Linked DNA regions of Homo sapiens. The protein of the gene in region 1 purifies or fractionates together with the protein of each later gene. This does not show direct contact. Each region holds a gene or a part of one and is shown in the gene's direction. Other genes may lie near its edges. The genes, in order: EDEM1, DNAJB12, OMA1, RNF121, BACE1, LAMP1 and PHF6.

Region 1 (3,500 bases):
TGAATGTATTTAGACAACTGCTTCCAGGGATGTCACAGTTGGTTAGTTCTCAAGATGTGCATCTGCTTTGAGGAAAAAAAGTGGTGGGGGTGGGGGGGTTTTAATTAAAGAAATAGTCTTAAGCATTTAGAGTTTAGTGAGTTGTGAATGAGAAAAACATAGCTCAGAAAAACACAGTATTTTCAAGTAGCAGAAATGTTTTCTGAAATTCTGGGCGGACTAAGGACCCCAGGGATGTGGCTTTCAGTCCTGGCCACGAAGCAGTTGCTGCGATGCCTTTTAGCTTCCCTGGATCTGCCATTTCTTTATAAAGTGAGTGAGGATGTTAAATTATGTCACTGGTCTTCACCTGAGGGTGATTTTGCTCCTCAGGGAACATTGGAACAGCGTCTGGAGACGTTTTTGATTTTCACAGCTGAGGCGTAGGAGTTGCCACTGGCACCTAGTGGGAGAGGCAAGGGGTGCTGCTGACCGTCCTGCAGTGTACAGGCAGCTTCCACAACAGTTACTTCCAAACGTCAGTAGTTCACAGGCTGAGAAACCCTGGATTAAGTCATCCAGTCACATTTCCTGAGAGAGCAACATATGAGTTTTTAATTTTCCCTCGTTTTTGTCTTTCTAGTGCAATCGTGTACCTGATGAGAGGAGGTACTCCCTGCCCTTAAAGAGCATCTACATGCGACAGATTGACCAGATGGTTGGTTTGATTTGATCTGCTCTCTGTGAGGCCTCATCTTGAACCAGACCTTAACGACCAAACCCAGACCATGCCAAAGTCCAGTCTGAAATGAAAGGGGACAGAAGTCTTGCTGTCCATGGTGGTGTAGGAATTTCTGTGCAACACCTCACCACGTCTGGTTAATCCTTGCACACTTCAGTGTTTCTCTCCTGTTCAATAAAATGCCCTGTTAAGGATATAATTTGAAGTGAGAAGATACATGGAAATTGCCCTCTTATGACATGTTGATGTTATAAGCACAATAGATGGGGCATCTTTGGATTGATGTTCACAGCTTTATACTTCAGAACCTAAGTCTCTTCACTTTGCTGGCACCTGCTATACTGGAGTATTGCTATGTCTTTAAAAAATTTTTTTTATTATATTTTATTTTTTTGAGACAGGGTCTTGATATTTTTTTGGGACAGGGTTACCTGGGCTCAAGTGATCCTTCTGCCTCAGCCTCCCGAGTAGCTGGGATTACAGGTGAGCACCACTGTACCTGGCTAGCTACTTCTTTGTTAGAGGATTGAGAATGAAATTTCTGCAAAAGGGCCCATGGTTCATTTGGTATCCCTATTTAATTGCATTGAAAATGTCATCCTTTCTGTTGTTAGATAATTGGGGTCTTCCCCTGATATCCAACCGTGATTTTGGATCACATGGGAGAAAAAGTCATCCAGTTTTTCATGTTTGCCTCAAGTAATCTTTACAGTGTTACAAATTATTTGCTTAAGAAGAATGGTCTTAACCAGAATTCTTAACAGATAGTCTCTTAGGTTATTATGTTATGGTCTAAGAGGTTAACTGACATCTTTTGGGTGGTATTTTGCATTTTGAATATGAACTTACCTGAGGAACTCCCATAGTTCCAGAATCAGGTGCCTTTTAGGGAGAGAACAATACCTAAGATTGTCTGAGCTTCCATCTTTCTCATATTTCCTAAGCAAGGATTCTCACTTCTGACCATATTTGGGTTAGAGTTCTGTTTTGTTTCTGTTTTCTGTGTCTAGTGCCAATTAGCTAAATCAGGGAGAAAGAAATGATCACATGACTTTTAGCATCCTTGAGCCATTTCTCTGTGTAATACAGGCTTTAGATTAGTGCCTTATATTGGTTTTGGTTTGGGGCACTGGATGTCGCAGCTACTGCTATGGTTTCAGGAGGCCTGTTTAGCCACATGGTGAGACCGTGGTGAAAGGGGGATGGAAATTGCTTGGCCAGTCTTTGCCTTTCATCCTGTAAAAGTAAGCATGTAGAAGGAGGAAGTTGTGCTAAAATGCCTTTGTTTTTTTGTTATTATTTTCTTAGCCAGAACATCTCTCTTTGAACTCACACTGATACACACCTGCTACTCTTACACAGTGCAGCAGGGTTGACTCTTAGTCTGGCTTCCATGAAGCGTCATGGGTGGAAACGCATTCTAGTAAAAAAGGTAGGAAATCCCTAAAACTTCCAGCCTCACATAGCACGGTTCTCACCTGTCACTGTTTTCCCACCTCTAAGGATTTCATGTACATCTTTTCAAAGCTAGAAATAAGCACTGTCTAAGTTTATGTTGCATTTTTAGTCAAAAGGGAGAAATCTTATTCCTTCTTGAAAATTTTAAGTGTTATGGTTTTATATAGTTCAGTTCTTTGAGATTTTTGAAAAGAGTATTTTCAGTAATAAACGTGCCATCTCTATCTCTTAAACATTTATTACAACAATTGTTTTAAAATAGAAAAAATAAAATGCTTCTATTTTACCTTTTTTCATTTCAGAAGCATTATTCTGTTTATTAACAGTGTCCCATCTACTGAATAGAAAACTTTGAGAATAATATATATATATATTTTAAATGTTTTCACTGACTCATTGAAAATGTTAATTACACACACATGCATGCATGCACACACGAGCATACTTGTACCTTTGTCTCTGGGCAAACAGGTGGGACTGTTAGTGACCCATTTGGGAAAATAGAGCATCTCAGAGAAGGAGGTGAGTTCTTCCTGCCTGTGATTTCTCTTGGCGCTCCCCTCCTCTCCCGCTCTGGCTTCTGTGGCGGCAGTGGTGGGTAAGCACTCCAGTGTTCTCTTAATGAGGCACTTTGCCTGTCACTCGAGCAAGCCTGGGTGTTCCTTCCTCCTCATGCTCCTGGAATAGGGAATAGGGATCTCATGCTTGCAAACTACACAATGCTGCAGGTGCTTCCCAGGGGCCACAGGCTGTCAGGAAACGTGTTTTATGTTAAGTCACAAACCCACTTGACTTCTGGGTACTGGAATTAATACCAGTGGGTGAGACTGAGGGTGAGTGAGTTAGTACATATTAATCCTGGTTGTTGAGCTTCCAGACTACCCCGTCCAAAGTTTGATGCTATGTAGTCAGTGGTTTGTGGGGCTGGATGCCAGAAGGTTCTTTGAGCCAGTTTCAAAGGTTACTTGTTTTTTTTTTTTTTTTTTAAAGTCAGAATGTTAACAGCTGTGATATATCCTGCAGGGCTTTTGCAGTTTCTTCTGTTCTGTGTTCTGAAATACTGGGTAGAGAATGGCTGAGGAGGAGATTACCAGAGAAGTTGCTTTGCTCAGTGCTTTGCCCCAGGATTGCCTCAAATCTGAGTGGACTTCATCCTTTGCGGCGGCTCTGAGCCTGGCCCATCTTCCTATTCCCACGTGTAGCTAGTGTCTAGTGTCAGCTTTGCTCAGTGTGGTGGAAACATTTTGCAGAACTGTTGTAGAAAGCTGCCTTATAGTTGGCTTGACAAAGCATAATTCTCTCATAACAAACTTTCAAATCA
Region 2 (2,778 bases), on another chromosome or scaffold:
ACACACAATACATGCACACACATAATACACATGCACACATACACGCACACATATACACACAGAGTTTTGCATATAATTTCGGCGGCTTTGTGACTCTTCCCTGCCCATCTCCCCTGCCAACCCTGACGAAGAACCTCTGCTCCTCGGCTCTGGTTGGGCTTCCTGAGGCTGTGGAAAGAACAGGGCACTAGAGTCAGACAGAGCAAGCATGGCTTAGAATCCCAGCTTCTCCACTAAGAAGCTGTGTGACCCTAAACAAGTTATATAACCTTGGTTTCCTCATCTATAAAATGGGAATTATAACATCCACCTGCTGTGGAAATTAATGAGTAATGCATATAAAATGTCTGGCCCACTAGAAATGCTCAACAATATTAGTTTAATGAATGCTTAGTCTCGACTGCCAGGAGTGAACTTGAGGACATTTCATGAGCCGTTAGGGGGTCAGCTCCCCTCACTGATGTCCAGCACCTGGCCCAGGGTCAGCTACACAGTGGGTGCACATCTTCAGTGGGGTGGGTCCCCCTCTCCCAAAAGGTGGCCACCTCTGGCTGGGAGCTGGCAGGACCCTTCTCAGCCAGCAGGGGGCAGAGTCGGTCCACTGGACCCTGGCCGCCGGCTCAGGCTCCCTGTGGCCAGATGCCAGCCCTTTTCCCTGCAACTGGAGAGATGTGAGGAGCAGAGGACTAGGGCAGGGACTGTTGTCCCCAGAGCACTGGTCCTGTCTGGGTGTCAAGGCTCTTCCCACAGCTGACAGAGCCTGTGATTGGAGCTGGGAGGATAAGGCTCCCTGGAGCCCTTCCTGTCATTTTGTTCCTAAGCCTCTTAACCCTACACTGGGAACTCCTAGATAGGCAGGCAAGCACTCAGCAACAATTGGCTTAGGGGATGAATGGGGAGATGGAGGCACAGAGGCAGAGCCCAGATTCCCTCTCAGGTCTCCAGTTCCCTAGACCAGGCCTCTCCCCAAAGGCCCCAGGTCAGCAGTGTGGTAAGCAGGGATCTAAAGGCAGGGCGTCCTGCGGTCTGGGCCACGTGTGTGGGAGGACGCTGCCTTTTCCTCAGACTCTCCTTTCAGGGAGTGTGCGGGTCCCTGCTCTGGTTTGAGAGGGAACCAACTACTCCTCTGGTCTGTGCGGCACCTCCTGTCTTGGGGCCCATACCCCTAGAGTGCCCTGGGCATGGGGACCCGCACCCACTTTGAACCTGGTATTTCTGGCCAGGTCCGTGGGCCACATCCACAGGCGAGTCACTGACCACCTGGGTGTCGTCTACTATGTGGGAGACACTTTCTCCGAAGAGTACACAGGCTCCAGCCTCAAAACAGTCGAGCGGAATGTGGAAGATGATTATATCGCCAACCTCCGGAACAACTGCTGGAAGGAGAAGCAGCAGAGTGAGTGTGGGGGGAAGGCGGGGGCTGTATTTGGGAGGTGGCTTGGGATGAAGCTGGAAAGCAGGGGAAGGAGAGAGCCCTGCTCACCCTGTGCTCTGAGGGCCCAGCCCCTGGCACTGCCCTGCACCAGCCACCTCCCAGACAAGAGCTGGTCTCCACTCCTGTGTTTCTCCGGGGCTGGGAGCCAGGGGCCACCTGGTAGTTTCCTCAGGTTCCCGTAAATCACTGCCATCAGCCCAGCATGTTGGCTGCCAGAGGTGAGTGTGTAGAGATGGACTGGAGCGGATGGATCCCTGGCCACCCCCTGACTGTGCTCCTGGATCTGTCTGTGGGACCCTGGGGAGGCCTGACCAGGATGACAGGGTCTCACCTTGGCTGGCCTCACTGCATTCTAGAGAAAGGCGCCTCTGTCACCCTCGCCCACATAAGGACTGTAGTCTCTGCTCCTCCATGGTCTTCCTAATGGGAGGCCAGCCCTGCCCAAGCCCCGGGCATGTACCAGCTTTCCTCCGCCCTCCACAGCCCTCGCAGGCTTCCTTGCAGGCTTCGGGAGGTACTGGGTGTGCACTAACCCTGTCCCATTGCTTTGCAGAGGAAGGCTTGCTGTACCGGGCACGCTACTTTGGCGACACAGATATGTACCACAGAGCACAGAAGATGGGCACCCCCAGCTGCAGCCGACTGTCAGAGGTGCAGGCCTCCCTGCATGGATAGTCCTGGGCCAGCCACACCACCGAGGTCCAAGTATGAGCCAGGGCTGCCTCCACCCTGCAACTCCTGGCAGCTTTGGCCCTGGTCATGAGCAGAGGAGGGAGGGGGAGAAAGGGAGGAAGCCTGGTGATTGTGGCAAAGACTCCTGTCCCCAGCCTGACCTCCAGCCTCCAGAGACCGAGCAGCTGTGGGGCCTGCTGGGAAACCAAGGTCGGTTTCCGCCCTCTAGCGATGCTGTCCTCCCCACTCCTCCGCTCTGCTCCCTGGCTCCAGGGGTGTGGGGGACCCCAGAACCAGGCAGAGTGGGAACTTGAAACTGTTGCTGAGGGCCACCCGGGGCTTCTTGGTCCACTCCAGCCATCAGTCAGCACGGCCCTTTCTCCAGCACAGCAGACTATTGTCCGTGCCCTGGTATTTAGGCCATCACATATGGTGGGGCCCAAGAGAGCCCCATATGCACACTGCCTGCCTGATACCAGGAAGAACCATGTGGGAATAGGTGGGCCAAGAGCCCTCCCCTTTCTCCATCCCTCCAGCTAGGAGGAAATGGAGCAAGATGAACAGGCAGCCACGAGGTGGGTGGGAGCTGGCAGTCTTGGTGGCGGCAGGGGCCGCGGGCCCTGACCACCCCCCTCTGGTGGGATCTGAGGCACTCTCTCGAATGCCGTCAC
Region 3 (3,500 bases), on another chromosome or scaffold:
TTATCCCAGCATTTTGGGAGGCTGAGGTGGGTGGATCACCTGAGGTCAGGAGTTCGAGACCAGCCTGGCCAACGGGGTGAAACCCTGTCTCTACTGAAAATACAAAATTAGGCGGGCGTGGTGGCATGCGCCTGTAATCCCAGCTACTCGGGAGATTGAGGCAGGGGAATCGCTTGAACCCTGGAGGCAGAAGTTGTAGTGAGCCGAGATCGTGCCACTGCACTCTAGTCAGCGACAGGGTGAGACTCTGTCTCAAAAAAAAAAAAGAAGTATCTTTCAGTATGACTTCAAATTCAGCCCAACAAATACGGAGTACCTCTTAAAAGAAAGAAATGATGCTAGATGTGGGGGATACAAAGAGGAATAAGATATGGTTCTTGATATTTACAGGATGCTAAGATAAATAAAAAATGATTATTAGTACAAGGATATGATTTATCATAAGAAAAATAAAAACGGTATGCAGTTTGAAGGAAGATGAATCTGCTTCTAGTTTGGGATAAGAAACTCTAGTGCAAGATTTATTCATTCATTAGGTAGATCGATATTTATTGATACTTATTGATTAATCTACTATTCTGTGTTCTATTGCTGGGGAATGAGCAAGGAACAAAACAGTCTGTTTTCTTGGAGTTAACATTCTAGTTAGGTAATGCAAATAAGAAACAAACATATAGTATGCCAAGCAATAATAAGTACCTTGGGAAAAAATAAAGCAGATTAAAGGTATTAGAGAGGGGTGGGCAGCAGAGAAGGGGTACTAGTCTATGTTCGGTTGTCAAGGAAGGCCTCACTAATCAGAATCCGGAAGGAAGCACGGGAGCAAGTCCTTTAGCTGTGTGGAGGGAGAGAGAGCCTTTTAGGCTGAGGAAGCAGCTGATGCAGAGAACCTAAAGTCAGCGTATGTTTGATGTGTTCAAGGAATAGCAAGGAAGACATTGGGGCTGAATGGAGTAAGGGAAGGGAAGAACAGTTCAAGATGAGGTGAAAGGGGACCAGACCACGCAGGATCTTCTAAGCCATTGTAAGGACTTGACTTTCACTTCAAGTGATAGGAGAAGCTAGTTGAGGATATTGAGCAGAGGAGTGACTTGATTTGACTCATGTTTTATTGTGATCACTGGCATTATTGTGTGGAGTAGACTAGTGGGGCAACGGTGGAGTCAGGGAGACTTTTTAGGAGACTCTCATAATCCTGGTAGGAGATGATGGTGGCTTGGACCAAGATATCTGGTAGCAGAAAATGGGGAAAGAATCAGTCAGATTCTGGATATATTTTGAAAGGAGTGATGACAGGATTTGTTGGTAATTTAGGCATACTTCGTGCCTTTTGTGAGCATTGAGGACAGCCAAGCATGGCTTCTTAACACCTATTTTAGTTTGTTCAGGTTGCAATAATAAAAATACCATAGACTGGGTGGCTTATAAACAACAGAAACTTACTTCTCACAGTTTGGAAGGCTGTGAAATCTTAGATCCAATTTCCAACAGATTTGGTGTCTGGTGAGGGCCCACTTCCCAGCTCATAAACAGCCATCTTCTCCTTGTAACCTCACATGGTAGAAGGGGCAAGGGAGCTCTCAAAAGCCTCTTTTATAAAAGGGTGCTAACCCATTCATGAGGGCTCCACCCTTATGACAATCGCCTCCCAAAGGCGCTTACCTCCTGATACCATCACATTGGGAGTTGGAATTTCAACATATAAATTTTGACAGGACACAGACATTCACTCTATATCAGCAGCTATCTTAACTAGATTTCATTTGTATTCTTAATTTGAAAAAAAAATTTGAGAAAGAAATAGCAGTGAAATTTACCTGATATAATATGTAGTAATTATTCCTCTTAAAAGGGTAGTATAGGCATGGGACATTATGTATTTCTTCAGTAACTGACTTGTACTGAGGATCACTGACTATAAGAGGGTCCTTTGTGCTATCCAAGGCCCCTGGGACTTTATCGCACCCTGGGAGGCCTGGGCCTGTCTCTAAAGCAATGATAACAATATGATTTTCTCTTGAATTTTTTTTCTTTTTATTTTCGCTCAATGAAATTCTAAAAATATGTGGTTTGTTTAATTGGATAATAAATTCTGTTAGCCAACTTTTCATGTGAAGACTCCTAAATTCTGAGTTGTCATTTCATCATCAAATTACTGAGCATCTTCGGAGAGGTAAAAACTGTGCTTTAGAGATGTCTTTAAAATAATAATGAATTGATTAGTGAGTAGGAAGAAAAATGGCTAGAGAAACAAATTTTATTTGGGAGCAAATGATGAAGACAAAGACGTGAGACATTTTTCTTCTAAAAATAAACTATCCTAGTTCAGAAACTTAATTTGAAAACCTCATATAATTTCTTATATTCCCCACCCCAAGTGATTAAATTCAATTTGAAAGTAATAAAACTCTATTGCAATATTGGGAATAACTCAGTGGTTGAAGTGAAACTGATAGTACAAGGGTATATTGTTAATTAGAATATACAGTCATAACTCAAAGATTGGAATTCCCTATTATTGTAGTCTAATTTCTGACATATAATGAAAGAAGGCAGTTTCTCAGGCAGTATATAGAATTATGTGAGTCTGTATACTACTACTACATTTTGAAATTATATTTTATGTAGCATGCTCTAGTGAGTATGTTATGTTCTACCTAAGGTTCCTGTCCTTTGACATCTCTAGCAGTATGGTGAAGTTATGTTCCCCTCAAAGGCAGTTGAGAATACAGCACTAGAGAGCACAGACAAATCCAGGCCAGAGATGAAGATTTCAGAGTTTCAGAGTCATCTAAAAAGAAGTGATAGTTGAAGCAATGAGAATGGATGAGTTCACGTAGGAAGTGATTAGAGAAAAAGATCAAAGTAACAGTATTGCATATTTTCCACATTTAATGGGTGGGAGGAAGACAGAGCCTGTGTTGGATCAGATTCATAGGAAATCAAGAAAGCAAATAGGAAACCAAGAAAGCAGGATTCTGTGGGTCTGTGATTAGAACACAAATTTTGATCATTTTGATTTTTAAACTTTAGCTTATTGAAGATTGTATATTTTTATTTCTTATTGGATCCCTTGCATATCATCACAAAAATGTATTGTTTCTTACTGTAGCTTATCAACTTTTAAAATGTTTTAAATTTACACTTTATGCATTCAACAAGTATTTATCAGTCATCTGTTATATGCCAGGTTGTAGGTGATGTGAAATAAATAGACAAAAATCCCTGTCCTCATGAAGCTTATTCTGCAGTAAAGGGAGACAGATAATAAATTTGGTGCTGGGGGCGGGAGTGGGGGGCAGTGAGGAGGGAGAGGCAGCTCTCTTATGTCTCTTTTTATAAAGCTACTAATCCTATTCGATCAGGGCCCCACCCTTCAGACCTCATTAAACCTTAGTTACCTCCTTTTAGGCCTTATTTCCAAATACAGTTACACTGGAGGTTGGGACTTCAAAATATGAATTTTAGAGGAACACATGAGTCCTTAGCACACAGTTATG
Region 4 (3,500 bases), on another chromosome or scaffold:
CATGTAGTAGTGTCATTTGACCTAGTCTTGGGGCTCAAAGATGGCTTCCTTGAAGAAGTGACTATGGAGCTGACTTGAACAATGAATAGCAGTTAAGTGGATGAAGTGAGAACCAGGCAGAGGAAAGAGCATTCATAAGAGTCCTGTCACGGGAGAAAGTGTGGGTGTTTTTGAGGAACTAAGACCATTGCGGTTGTATGGCCAAGAAGTGCCTGGAGAAGTAGTGACTAGACTAGAAAAAAGCCTGTGGGCCAAATTAAAGATTTTGATTTTTATGCTAAAAATCCTGGGAGGGGCCGGGCACAGTGGCTCACTTTGGGAGGCTGAGGCAGGCAGATTGCTTGAGCCCAGGAGTTCAAGACCAGCCTGAGCACCATAGTGAGACCCCATCTCTACAAAAAAATGAGACAAAAAAAAAAAAAACCTAGCCGGGCGTGGTGGCACATGCCTGTAGTCCCAGCTACTTTGGAGACCAAGGTGGGAAGTCACTTGAGCCTTGCAGTGAGCTTGTTCATGCCACCAAACTCCAGCCTGGGCAACAGAGCAAGACGTTGTCTCTAAATAAGTAAAAATTCACAAAATGTATAATAATCATGCAAAGGCACAACAATAAATGATGGGGCACAAAAGTGCTTAGTCCATATTGGTAATTGTTTTTGAACTGCACAGTGGTAGGAGTTGCTCCTTACAATTTTTACTTTGTGAACTCTTATTCCTTGATTTAACCCACAGCCGCTACAACAACAGCCACTGTCACTTACTGCTTTACCAAAAATTGGGGAAGCTTTCATACTTGCTTTGTTAATCTTTAACTGTATGTGTAAAGCTACACATTTCATTTCAACATTTAATATTAAAAGTGTTTTGAGTCTTTACTTAAGAGACAATTTGGTGTCTCTTAAATAGAGGTTTAGTGATGTCTTTGTGACAGAAATATGACACAGGAACTGAACTCTTGTTTCTATCAATTAGCCTGTGGTAAAATTGGTTTTGTTATATGTCGTTTCATTTAAAGTCACAGTTTCCAAGAAACTGTCAGTGAAGTGAGGACATACTGTATTTGAGAAGTATTTTGGACTTAGATATAGTTTGGTTCTGAAGACTGAAGGGAAAAATACAAAGGAAATATAGGTTTCAAAGCTGAGATTTCTGATTCGGCAACTGCTTGGATGGTAGTACCTTTCACTGAGATAGGAAATGCTGCAAGAGCAGCAGGTGGACATCACGGAGAGATGCTTAAATATGGGTAAATTAACAGCCAATCTGAGAAACGCAAGTAAATATTTCTATTTTTTTTTTCAGAATGGAAATATATCTTTATTGTTTTGCTGTTTATAAAAGTAGTATGTTCTCTTTGTAATTATTTAAACAACACAGAAGTGCTCCCTGTCTCAGTGTCATCCCCCAAGACCCCACCCCAAGAAGGAATATTTCCATCACCTTGGGTAACTTTAATCTAGTACCGTTTAAGGCCAGGGACTTTGTCCCTCAGTATCATGGGAATATTCTAATTTTTTCTCTACTGGATCAAATTGAAAACAGTACATTGGATCACTTTATTGACAGTTTATTAGGTTCCTTTTTGAACAACTGTCTTGTGCTTTACCTTCATTTCCCTCTTACCTATTTGTGTAGACATTGGATCTTCCTTTAACCAGTTTACTCCCCAGAAGAGATTTCTAGACCATGTCACCATTTTGACCATTTTGAAGTATACAATTCATGCATTAATTACATTTGCAGTGTTCTGCAACATTTTCACTGTCTAATTCCAAAATTTTTCTTCATCCCAAACAGAAACTCTGCCCATTAAGCAGTAACTCATTACCCCTTCCCACAGCCCTGGTTTACCTCTAATATACTTTCCATCTCTGTGAACATGCCTATTGTAGATATTTCATGTAAATGGAATCATACAATATTTGTCCCTTTGGCTTTTTTCACTTAGCGTAGTGTTTTCAGAGTTCATCCATGTATAGAATGTATCATTCCTTTATATGGCTGAATAGTATTCCATTGTGTGTGACACCGCATTTGGTTTATTCATTCATCTGTGGATAGGCACTTGAGTTGTTTCCACTTTTTGGCTACTGTGAGTAACGCTGTGAGCACTGGCGTTTAAGTGTGTTTAGTCCCTAGTTTCATATCTTTTGGGTTTATACCGAGAATGGAATTGCTTGGTCATTTGGTAATTTTATGTTTAACTTTTTGAGGACATGCCAAACTCTTTGCTTTCTTAATTATGATAATGCTTAAGTGAATATCTGTATTCATGAAGCTTCTTTGACACTTCCTCTTTTTTTTTTTTTTTTTGAGATGGAGTCTCGGTCTGTTGCCCAGGCTGGAGTGCAGTGGTGCGATCTCGGCTCACTGCAAGCTCTGCCTCCCGGGTTCACGCCATTCTCCTGCCTCAGCCTCCTGAGTAGCTGGGACTACAGGCGCCCCCCACCATGCCTGGCTAATTTTTTGTATTTTTAGTAGAGACGGGGTTTCACTGTGTTAGTTAGGATGCTCTCGATCTCCTGACCTCGTGATCCGCCCTCCTTGGCCTCCCAAAGTGCTGGGGTTACAGGCGTCAGCCACCGCGCCCAGCCTCCTCTTATTTCTTTAAATTCCTTGAAGTGAAATTAATGGGTCAAAAGGTGCAACAATTTGAGATACCATGCTAAATCCTATCTGAAAGGCTTGAACCCCTTTTGCTGCTGCCACAAATGTCTGAGAATGCCCTTGTCACCAAACCAACATGGCACTTAATATTTCACTGTTTTAAATGTTGGAGAATATTGTTGTCCATTTCTGGTGGAACCATAGTCTGGCGACAGAATGGCTTGCCTGACACAGCTTTTGATCACCAGCCCCAAGTCCTTCTCCCTCCCCTTCCCCTTATCCTTTGGTGCTGATCCAGCCCAGTTTATAGGTTCTGTTACATCTAACTTCCCAACTGTCTCTAGTCTGGTCACTTCTCCCCATCTGCCCAGCAAAGATGAGGTCGATTTGACTTGTAAAAGATTACCTTTTCTAAACAGTTTAAAAAAAAAAAGATGTCCTCTAACTCTGGGCCTCCCGCTGCCACTGTGCCTCTTCTCTAGAAGGCCTGAGGTCTCTGTGGAGCTTCCTACTTTGGCTGCTTCTCACATCTTTTCCTATCTTTCCTTCCTGCTATTCTCCTTCAGTTCTACAGCGAGTCGGGCATGCCTACCAAACATCTTTCAGACAGTGTGTGTGCTGTGTGTGGGCAGCAGATCTTTGTGGACGTCAGTGAAGAGGGGATCATTGAGAACACGTATAGGCTGTCCTGCAATCATGTGTATCCTGCCTCGAGCTCCTGGGCCACATCTCTCCTGCAATCTGCACACTGTAGTGAGAGAGAGAAAGAGGGTGGTCATGACCCTAGGCATGCTGTCCAGACCCTTGAGTGTAGGAGAGCCACAAGAGGGCCACCTTCCCTACCCTTTCCCACAGATCAGAGCCACTCTTAGGTAAACAGTGGTTACAACCTG
Region 5 (3,500 bases), on another chromosome or scaffold:
CTTAAATGAAGTGCCCACTAAGAAGTTCCACTTAACACATGAATTTCTGCCATATTAATTTCATTGTCTCTATCTGAACCACCCTTTATTCTACATATGATAGGCAGCACTGAAATATCCTAACCCCCTAAGCTCCAGGTGCCCTGTGGGAGAGCAACTGGACTATAGCAGGGCTGGGCTCTGTCTTCCTGGTCATAGGCTCACTCTTTCCCCCAAATCTTCCTCTGGAGCTTTGCAGCCAAGGTGCTAAAAGGAATAGGTAGGAGACCTCTTCTATCTAATCCTTAAAAGCATAATGTTGAACATTCATTCAACAGCTGATGCCCTATAACCCCTGCCTGGATTTCTTCCTATTAGGCTATAAGAAGTAGCAAGATCTTTACATAATTCAGAGTGGTTTCATTGCCTTCCTACCCTCTCTAATGGCCCCTCCATTTATTTGACTAAAGCATCACACAGTGGCACTAGCATTATACCAAGAGTATGAGAAATACAGTGCTTTATGGCTCTAACATTACTGCCTTCAGTATCAAGGCTGCCTGGAGAAAGGATGGCAGCCTCAGGGCTTCCTTATGTCCTCCACCACAAGAGCTCCTTGATGAAGGTCATCTTTTTCCCCTATCCTGTTCTTCCCCTCCCCGCTCCTAATGGTACGTGGGTACCCAGGCTGGTTCTTGGGCTAGGTAGTGGGGACCAAGTTCATTACCTCCCTATCAGTTCTAGCATAGTAAACTACGGTACCAGTGTTAGTGGGAAGAGCTGGGTTTTCCTAGTATACCCACTGCATCCTACTCCTACCTGGTCAACCCGCTGCTTCCAGGTATGGGACCTGCTAAGTGTGGAATTACCTGATAAGGGAGAGGGAAATACAAGGAGGGCCTCTGGTGTTCCTGGCCTCAGCCAGCTGCCCACAAGCCATAAACCAATAAAACAAGAATACTGAGTCAGTTTTTTATCTGGGTTCTCTTCATTCCCACTGCACTTGGTGCTGCTTTGGCTGACTGGGAACACCCCATAACTACAGAGTCTGACAGGAAGACTGGAGACTGTCCACTTCTAGCTCGGAACTTACTGTGTAAATAAACTTTCAGAACTGCTACCATGAAGTGAAAATGCCACATTTTGCTTTATAATTTCTACCCATGTTGGGAAAAACTGGCTTTTTCCCAGCCCTTTCCAGGGCATAAAACTCAACCCCTTCGATAGCAAGTCCCATCAGCCTATTATTTTTTTAAAGAAAACTTGCACTTGTTTTTCTTTTTACAGTTACTTCCTTCCTGCCCCAAAATTATAAACTCTAAGTGTAAAAAAAAGTCTTAACAACAGCTTCTTGCTTGTAAAAATATGTATTATACATCTGTATTTTTAAATTCTGCTCCTGAAAAATGACTGTCCCATTCTCCACTCACTGCATTTGGGGCCTTTCCCATTGGTCTGCATGTCTTTTATCATTGCAGGCCAGTGGACAGAGGGAGAAGGGAGAACAGGGGTCGCCAACACTTGTGTTGCTTTCTGACTGATCCTGAACAAGAAAGAGTAACACTGAGGCGCTCGCTCCCATGCACAACTCTCCAAAACACTTATCCTCCTGCAAGAGTGGGCTTTCCAGGGTCTTTACTGGGAAGCAGTTAAGCCCCCTCCTCACCCCTTCCTTTTTTCTTTCTTTACTCCTTTGGCTTCAAAGGATTTTGGAAAAGAAACAATATGCTTTACACTCATTTTCAATTTCTAAATTTGCAGGGGATACTGAAAAATACGGCAGGTGGCCTAAGGCTGCTGTAAAGTTGAGGGGAGAGGAAATCTTAAGATTACAAGATAAAAAACGAATCCCCTAAACAAAAAGAACAATAGAACTGGTCTTCCATTTTGCCACCTTTCCTGTTCATGACAGCTACTAACCTGGAGACAGTAACATTTCATTAACCAAAGAAAGTGGGTCACCTGACCTCTGAAGAGCTGAGTACTCAGGCCACTCCAATCACCCTACAAGATGCCAAGGAGGTCCCAGGAAGTCCAGCTCCTTAAACTGACGCTAGTCAATAAACCTGGGCAAGTGAGGCAAGAGAAATGAGGAAGAATCCATCTGTGAGGTGATAGGCAAGGATGAAAGACAAAGAAGGAAAAGAGTATCAAAGGCAGAAAGGAGATCATTTAGTTGGGTCTGAAAGGAAAAGTCTTTGCTATCCGACATGTACTGCTAGTACCTGTAAGCATTTTAGGTCCCAGAATGGAAAAAAAAATCAGCTATTGGTAATATAATAATGTCCTTTCCCTGGAGTCAGTTTTTTTAAAAAGTTAACTCTTAGTTTTTACTTGTTTAATTCTAAAAGAGAAGGGAGCTGAGGCCATTCCCTGTAGGAGTAAAGATAAAAGGATAGGAAAAGATTCAAAGCTCTAATAGAGTCACAGCTTTCCCAGGTATAAAACCTAAAATTAAGAAGTACAATAAGCAGAGGTGGAAAATGATCTAGTTCCTGATAGCTACCCACAGAGCAAGTGATTTATAAATTTGAAATCCAAACTACTTTCTTAATATCACTTTGGTCTCCATTTTTCCCAGGACAGGAAATATGTCCCCCCCTAACTTTCTTGCTTCAAAAATTAAAATCCAGCATCCCAAGATCATTCTACAAGTAATTTTGCACAGACATCTCCTCACCCCAGTGCCTGTCTGGAGCTCACCCAAGGTCACCAAACAACTTGGTTGTGAACCAACTGCCTTAACCTTCTGGGGGAGGGGGATTAGCTAGACTAGGAGACCAGAAGTGAATGGGAAAGGGTGAGGACTTCACAATGTTGGCCTGTCAGAGCTTGATTAGAAGCCAAGACAGTGGCAGCAAAGGAAGACTTGGCCCAGGAAAAACCTGTGGGTTGTGCTAATTTCTGTCCAGAAAATAGGGTGGACAGAAGCTTGTGGGGTACATGGAGGAATTGGGACCTGGTTATGTTGTTATTCTCGGACTGTGAATTTTGGTGATGTAAAACAGAATATTCTGTAAACCTAATGTCTGTATAAATAATGAGCGTTAACACAGTAAAATATTCAATAAGAAGTCAAACTACTAGGGTTACTTTTTTTTCCTCAATCAGAGTCTCATTTTATCCATTTGGAGTAGAGTGGCTAAAACAATACTGAGGCTTCTGGAGGCTTTCGGTAAGCAAGGCATCTGGTTGGACAGTGGGTGAGCACCAGGCTTTAAATCTGCATACATGAGCCTTAAGGAAATGGACTAGAGGCTGAGCCAAACCAAAGCAGAATGGCCTTAGAGCAACAGCAGGTTCCTAGGTGGTTTTTATATTGTATTTGAAAACAGCCCTGGGCAGGGATATCATAATTTCAAGGCCAAACTAAACATCATCTTCCCTACAATCTGCATCCCCCAAAGGAATTGCAAGATGAGGGGGAACAGACTGTTTCTGCATAATATACATAGTTTCATTTACGAACATTGGAATACAGACTTTCTATACACACATTACCTATATAATAAAAATGTACA
Region 6 (3,500 bases), on another chromosome or scaffold:
GGGAGGCCCAGGTGGGCGGATCAGCTGAAGTCAGGGGTTTGAGACCAGCCTGGCCAATGTGGTGAAACCCCGTCTCTACTAAGAATACAAAAATTAGCCAGGCGTGGTGTGGTGGCAGGCGCCTGTAATTCCAGCTACGTGGGAGGCTGAGGCAGGAGAATTGCTTGAACCTGGGAGGCAGGGGTTGCAGGGAGCTGAGATCGTGCCATTGCACTCCAGCCTGGGCAACAAAATCGAAACTCAATGTCAAAAAAAAAAAAAAAAAAAGAAAAAGAAAAGAAAGAAAAGCTGGGTGTGGTGGCTCATGCCTGTAATCCCAGCACTTTGGGAGGCTGAGGCAGGCCGATCACTAGGTCAAGAGATCGAGACCATCCTGGCCACAACATGGTGAAACTCCATCTCTATTCTTTTTAAAAATATTTTTAAAAAGTTAGCCAGGCGTAGTGGCACAGGCCTGTAGTCCCAGTTACTCAGGAGGCTGAGGCAGGAGAACTGCTTGAACCCGGAAGGTGGAGGTTGCAGTGAGCCGAGATCGTGCCACTGCTCTTCAGGGCAACAGAGCGAGACTCCATCTCAAAAAAACAAAGAAAAAAATTTTTTTTCTACTAACCGATGTTACCTTTGATTGTGCAGATTGTCAGTTATGCGGTGGAAAGAATGAATTTGTCAGCAGATTTGAGGTCAGAATGTCTTTGTAGCCCTGTAATTTTGAATTTGTATTGCATTAGCCCCATCCCAGACAACGTTACCCTTTCTTCTCTGTACCCAAGACTTTTATTGCATGTGCTTCTACATGGTAACATCTGTTCGGCTGCACTGGGATTATTTTTGCCTGTGTATCTCCCTTCCTTAACTGACAGGTAGTAAGTGCTGAGTACATATATGAAGAAAGGATCAATTTTATAGCAGTGGCTCTCAACCAAACATATGCACGGATCCACACGATCAGCTTTTTAGAAATATACATACCACAGCGAGGCACAGTGGCTCATGCCTGTCATCTCAGTGCTTTGAGGCTAAGGCAGGAGGATTGCTTGAGATCAGCCTGGGCAACATGGCGAGACCAGTGTCTCTACAAAAAAAATTAAAAAGAAATATACGGCCGGGCACGGTGGCTGTCACGTGTAATCCTAACACTTTGGGAGGCCGAGGTGGGTGGATTGCCTGAGCTCAGGAGTTCGAGACCAGCCTGGGCAATATGGTGAAATCCCATCTCTACTAAAATACAAAAAAAATTAGTCGGGCATGGTGGCGTACCCCTGTAGTCATAGCTACTTGGAAGGCTGAGGTAGGAGAATTGCTTGAGCCCGGGAGGCGGAGGTTGCAGTGAGCGAAGATCATGCTACTGGACTCCAGCCTGGGTGACAGAGTGAGACTCTGTTTCCATTTAAAAAAAAAAAAAAAAAATATATATATATATATATATATATATATATATATATATATATATATATTTACACACACACACACTTATACCTTGCCTCTAGAGGTTGTGATTCAGTGCCTGGGATGGTATTTTTTTCCTTTAGTTCTTCATAAATGATTGTGCATCATTGGTTAAGTAGAATAAAAATACCATATTTAAAAGAATCAAGCCAAGAAAAACTAAGATGTGATTTCTTTTTTTTTTTTTTTTTTTTTTGAGACGGAGTCTCGCTCTGTCGCCCAGGCTGGAGTGCAGTGGTGCGATCTCGGCTCACTGCAAGCTCCGCCTCCCAGGTTCACGCCATTCTCCTGCCTCAGCCTCCCGAGTACCAGGGATTACAGGCATGCGCCACCATGCCCGGCTAATTTTGTATTTTTAGTGGTGACAGGGTTTCTCCATGTTTGGTCAGGCTGGTCTCAAACGCCTAACCTCAGGTGATCTGCCCACCTCGGCCTCCCAAAGTGCTGGGATTACAGGCGGTAGCCACCACACCCAGCCTAAGATGTAATTTCTTAATAAATTGTTTTTTCTTCTTTTTTTGAGACAGTCTCTTTATGTTGTCCAGTCTGGAGTGCAGTGGCACGATCTCAGCTCACTGCAACCTCCACCTCCCGGGTTCAAGTGATTCTTCTGCCTCAGCCTCCCGAGTAGCTGAGACTACAGGCATGCGCCACCATGCCCGTCTAATTTTTGTATATATTTTTTAGTAGAGACGGGGTTTCACCATGCTAGCTAGGCTAGTCTCAAACTCCTGACCTCAGGTGATCCGCCTGCCTCAGCCTCCCAAAGTGCTGGGATTACAGGCTGGGATTACGGGCTGTGCCCGGCCTAATTTTTTAAAATGAAGTTTTTTACTCATTTCTTCAGATGGTAATCTTTAATGTCAAAAGCGAGTATTTCTTAATTTTTATTTATTTTAATTCAAAAAAATTAAATTTTTTTTTTAAGAGACAAGGTCTTGCTGTGTTGACCAGCCTGGTCTGGAACTCCTAACCTCAAGCAGTCCTCCGCTTCCTCAGCCTCCCAAAGTGCTGAGATTACAGGCATGAGCCACTGCACCCAGCCAGTGTTTCCTCATTGGAAGCCCGTTCCCTCAGTCATCAAGTGCTGGAGAGGCAGCGTGGCTCAGAAGTGGCACGTCCTGTGAGTCAGAAGACCCCTTCTAGATCTAGGTCTCCGCCACTCACTAGCTGTGTGACCTGGGTGGGTTAGTTGACCTCTCTATGCCTTAATCTCCCTATGAAGAGTTGTCATGATAACTGGGATGTGCTTAGAGCAGCACCTGGCACAAAGTAAGTGCATTCCAAGTGCTTGTTAAATGAGATAGTTTTTGATGTTTTGTGTCAGATACTGAGGATTGAATGATGAACTTGATGGGAACCCTCTGTACCTGTGCAGATGTTTAATAACAGCTGACATCAAAGCTGGCGTCAGTGCCGGGCACCAAATGCTCAGCTGCTCCGACAGCCCTGAGGCCTTGGCACTCTCTCCTCCTGCTCGTGGGTGCAGAGACTGGGGATTGGGCTCTGCTACTGGCCATGGTTGCACAGCTAGTAAGTGCTGCAAGAACCTCCAAGAACTGAGGGCTGTGACTCAGAAGCACGCATGCTTCCCACAGCGGCACTTGTTTCAGAGAACAGAATTTCTCCCAAGTGGGGGTATTTTGAAGCCACAGTTACTCCTTTATGTGATCCCTGGAGAAGTGGTCCTGTTCGTGTCTGAGTACAGGACTGCCGGAGATAGCAGTCACCAGTAGGCCAGGGTGCCCACCTTGGAGATGCTGCCAACGGCTGTCCTGTTGGGCTGTGACACCTGTCAGGTTACTGGAAACATTGTAACTTACTTGAGGTTTTTTGTCTTTTTTTTTTTTTGCTACCCAGTTGCCACTGTTGTGGAGGTTTTTAAAAAAACTTCTGACCCTTATAGCATACATACATTTCCTCCTCAAGCTCTGTGTGCTGATGCTCTTATTTTCTTCTATACCAAAATTGCCTTCTGAGGGTAAGTTTATTTTAATAACTCAAAATTCCTGGGTCTCTCCAGAGTAATACAGGCATCTTGTGCTGCCAAAGCT
Region 7 (3,500 bases), on another chromosome or scaffold:
AGTCCTCATTTTATTTCAATGTCCATAATTTTGGTTATATTTTAATCAGACATGTAAATATATTAAAAATATTTGAGCAGATACTTGATTATTAAGGAAAGATTATCTTTCTTCGGAAATTAAATATAACACACTTGTTATCACATTTAATGTTTCTCTCATAAGGATTCTGAATGTTAATTTTCCTGCATTTTTCTTCTCTAGTTGTTTTCTTCTGGCACAGTCCAGCTCACAACAACATCAAGAGCAGAATTTGGAGACTTTGATATTAAAACTGTACTTCAGGAGATTAAACGAGGAAAAAGAATGGTCTGTAGTTTTTATATTTGTTATGCAACATTACACTTGATTTGCTGCTTTAAATTTAGAGTACATCCCAAATTTATCCAGTCATCAGAAAATTTAAAGTAGTTCGTATGTTAAAGCAAAGTATATATTTGACTTATTTGTAATATAATAAAGGATGCTGATGTTACTGAAACTTATTTCTCTATGTAACTTCATTACTTTAAGAGAATTATACTGAGAAGATTTATATACATTTCAAGGCATTTGCAAGCCGTTTAATAAAATAAATGAAGATATGAATGTGACAAACTTCATTAAGTTTAAAATGTTACATTGTGTAAGCTTGCTTAAAGGAAATTTTTTTCAGGGCTTTCTGTTTAAAGAACACATACACAGGGCTGCCTCTTAAAATGTTTGTCATAGCTTTAAGGTTTTTTAAATAAAATAATATAAAATACGCCTTAGTCTCATGTTGTTAAACATACTGAATTACCAACAAGTAGCTCTAAGAAATGTTGGCATCTTTATTGATCGCTTACTCCTTTAACACTTATGAATGCTATGTCGGTTATTTCTAGAAATTAATTTTTAAATTTTTTTGTTGGGAAAATTTTCAAACATACCGCAATTGGAAAGCCTAGTAACATGTATCTATCCATCATCTTGCTTCATCAGTTACCTAAATTTGTGGCGCTTGTTTCATATAGGCCTTTTATTCTTGTTGCTTGAAGTATTTTAAAGCAGACCTCAGACTTCGTATCACTATACCTCCATGTAGTTGAGTATGTATCTCTTAATAATTGGACATTTTCTTACCTAACCACAATGTCATTATACCTTACAATTTTTTTGTTTATTTTTTATTTTTTTATTTTTTTGAGACAGAGTCTCACTCTGTCGCCCAGGCTGGGGTGCAGTGGTGCGATCTCGGCTCACTGTAACCTCTGCCTCCCGGGTTCAAGTGATTCCCGTGCCTCAGTTTCCAAAGTAGCTGGGATTACAGACATGCACCAACACGCCTGGATAATTTTTGTATTTTTAGTAGAGACAGGGTTTCATTATGTTGGCCAGGCTTGTCATGAACTCCTGACCTCATGTGATCCACCCACCTCGGCTTCCCAAAGTGCTGGGATTACAGGCGTGAGCACCCGGCTAAAAATGAAACTTTCGTAACAGAGCCTGTAGTACTGAAAAAAGGAAAAACCACTTCATCATATTATTCAGAGCAGTGTTGTATAATACAGCTAAAGTCCAAACAGGTGACTAAGATAACAATTCAATTATCTTGCCAACTTATTGTTTACCTCTGTACCATTGAGGATTGGGGTAAACACTAACCTAGCATTTCCCCCAAGTGTGCTCCAAAGGAAGTTAGTCCATCAAGATGTTCCCCCACCCCTCCAGAGATAAAAGGGCATCTAGATTTCAATAAACTTGAAAACTGTTTACTCTGTGCCCCCTCCCTTGGAGAAAAGGCTGTGAGAAGTCCTGCAATAAAGTGATCTGCTTAACCTATCCTTTCTCAAACTTATTTGACTTGAAACCCCCTTTTCAACAGGTACCTTTTAATCTCCGAACATTCTTCAGGCAAGGTTTATCTAGGCCAAACTGAGAAGTTTTGAAAAGATTTCAGCCCCTTTAGTCTCCCTCTGTACTTTTGTCTACTGGTAGCAATTCCTCTGTGGGAGGATTGCTTTTCTGGTTTCTTATTCTTTCCCCTAATCATAATAGGAAAGGATCTGATCTTAGGGAAGAAAAGAAGCCAACCACTAAGATATACAACATCATTCTTTTTGTGTATTTGGCAGCATTGAGGAGAATCTTATCTACATTTAGATGTCAGACCTGGGATGGTCAGTAGTTTTTCTAATAAGCCAGCAGTTTATAAATGTTAAATAAGGGAAACATCAGGGGATGACAATATTAGAGGGCTTATCAAAGTATGGTTTAAGTTGCAGCATTATTTCAGTTATATGCTATGTGATAATTTCAGTGTACTCTTTTTCAATAGAAAATAGCTGCTGTTTTCTTGAAATACGGCTTACGATTATTTCTCTTTCCTTATACAGAAATGTACACTTTGCAGTCAGCCTGGTGCTACTATTGGATGTGAAATAAAAGCCTGTGTTAAGACTTACCATTACCACTGTGGAGTACAAGACAAAGCTAAATACATTGAAAATATGTCACGAGGAATTTACAAGTAAGAAAACAACAGTTGTCTATTTCCCTAAACATGTTAGTAACCGTCCTTAAATAGATGACATTAGTTTACTCAGTCTCTGTTCTTAAATGGTGTTTAGTTAAGTATAGAATACTGAGCACATTATGTAAGGAATGAGTACTACAATTGGCATTTTCCTCTGACTACATATCCCTGGATTAGCATTCATCCATCCAATATTAGTTAGGCTTCCTATGTGCCAGCCATTGTGCTTGAAGCTGGGCATATGCCAGTGATCAAAACTACATACACTGGGCCGGGTGCGGTGGCTCACATCTGTAATCCCAGCACTTTGGGAGGCCGAGGCGGGTGAATCACCTGAGGTCAGAAGTTCGAGACCAGCCTGACCAACATGGTGAAACCCCGTCTCTACTAAAATACAAAAATTACCCAGGTGTGGTGGCAGGCACCTGTAATCCCAGCTACTCGGGAGGCTGAGGCAGGAGAATCGCTTGAACCCAGGAGGCAGAGGTTGCAGTGAGCCAAGATTGCGCCATTGCACTCCAGCCTGAGCAACAAGAGTGAAATTCCATCTCAAACAAACAAAAAAAAAACACTACATATACTCTCCTCATGAAGCTTACAGTCTATTGGGAGAGACCTATTATTTAAGTGGCCAAATATGCAATTACAACATAGCAGCGTAAGTGTTCTAAAGAAGTTACAAAGTGTTATGAGAGCGTATAAGAAGGAAGAGCTAACCTAGTCTGTAGTGGGGAGTATTTAAAATGTTCTGAAGGAAATAGTGCTCAGCTTTAAGCTGAGATATTAAGGACAAAGGTGAGCCTTGGTTGGGGGAGGTATTCTGGGCAGAGAGAAGAGCATATGCAAGAGCCCCGGGTGAGACAGAAGCAGAGGTGGAAATGGGGAGATGTGTTAGGAGGCTAGTGCTGGTGGTCCAGGTGAGAATTATTGGTAGCTTAGAATAGGATATGGTAGACAGAAGGCAAAAGATTCTCTTGAGAAGATGGTGAAAAAGTAAAGTATG

Evidence for each region.
Region 2: the proteins of EDEM1 (region 1) and DNAJB12 purify together in Homo sapiens (affinity purification with mass spectrometry, with the first as the bait; 2 studies listed by BioGRID). This does not show direct contact.
Region 3: the proteins of EDEM1 (region 1) and OMA1 purify together in Homo sapiens (affinity purification with mass spectrometry; one large-scale study listed by BioGRID and IntAct). This does not show direct contact.
Region 4: the proteins of EDEM1 (region 1) and RNF121 purify together in Homo sapiens (affinity purification with mass spectrometry, with the first as the bait; one study listed by BioGRID). This does not show direct contact.
Region 5: the proteins of EDEM1 (region 1) and BACE1 purify together in Homo sapiens (affinity purification with western blotting; one study listed by BioGRID). This does not show direct contact.
Region 6: the proteins of EDEM1 (region 1) and LAMP1 purify together in Homo sapiens (affinity purification with mass spectrometry, with the first as the bait; one study listed by BioGRID). This does not show direct contact.
Region 7: the proteins of EDEM1 (region 1) and PHF6 purify together in Homo sapiens (affinity purification with mass spectrometry; one large-scale study listed by BioGRID and IntAct). This does not show direct contact.

What each region holds. Positions count from the first base shown.
Region 1 is NC_000003.12:5,215,207-5,218,706, forward strand, and holds part of EDEM1 (ER degradation-enhancing alpha-mannosidase-like protein 1), read left to right. Parts: intron 1-622; coding exon 623-712; 3' UTR 713-3,500. UniProt on the Homo sapiens protein: Extracts misfolded glycoproteins, but not glycoproteins undergoing productive folding, from the calnexin cycle.
Region 2 is NC_000010.11:72,335,142-72,337,919, reverse strand, and holds part of DNAJB12 (dnaJ homolog subfamily B member 12), read left to right. Parts: intron 1-1,223; coding exon 1,224-1,396; intron 1,397-1,988; coding exon 1,989-2,110; 3' UTR 2,111-2,140; exon of another isoform or gene 2,141-2,778. UniProt on the Homo sapiens protein: Acts as a co-chaperone with HSPA8/Hsc70; required to promote protein folding and trafficking, prevent aggregation of client proteins, and promote unfolded proteins to endoplasmic reticulum-associated degradation (ERAD) pathway.
Region 3 is NC_000001.11:58,501,727-58,505,226, reverse strand, and holds part of OMA1 (metalloendopeptidase OMA1, mitochondrial precursor), read left to right. Parts: intron 1-3,500. UniProt on the Homo sapiens protein: Metalloprotease that is part of the quality control system in the inner membrane of mitochondria. Activated in response to various mitochondrial stress, leading to the proteolytic cleavage of target proteins, such as OPA1, UQCC3 and DELE1.
Region 4 is NC_000011.10:71,991,546-71,995,045, forward strand, and holds part of RNF121 (E3 ubiquitin ligase RNF121), read left to right. Parts: intron 1-3,173; coding exon 3,174-3,307; intron 3,308-3,500. UniProt on the Homo sapiens protein: E3 ubiquitin ligase which accepts ubiquitin and transfers it to substrates thereby promoting their degradation by the endoplasmic reticulum-associated degradation (ERAD) pathway which is a pathway involved in ubiquitin-dependent degradation of misfolded endoplasmic reticulum proteins.
Region 5 is NC_000011.10:117,285,257-117,288,756, reverse strand, and holds the end of BACE1 (beta-secretase 1 isoform A preproprotein), read left to right. Parts: 3' UTR 1-3,059; downstream 3,060-3,500. UniProt on the Homo sapiens protein: Responsible for the proteolytic processing of the amyloid precursor protein (APP).
Region 6 is NC_000013.11:113,300,239-113,303,738, forward strand, and holds part of LAMP1 (lysosome-associated membrane glycoprotein 1 precursor), read left to right. Parts: intron 1-3,500. UniProt on the Homo sapiens protein: Lysosomal membrane glycoprotein which plays an important role in lysosome biogenesis, lysosomal pH regulation, autophagy and cholesterol homeostasis.
Region 7 is NC_000023.11:134,414,812-134,418,311, forward strand, and holds part of PHF6 (PHD finger protein 6), read left to right. Parts: intron 1-204; coding exon 205-309; coding exon of another isoform or gene 310-411; exon of another isoform or gene 412-481; intron 482-2,357; coding exon 2,358-2,491; intron 2,492-3,500.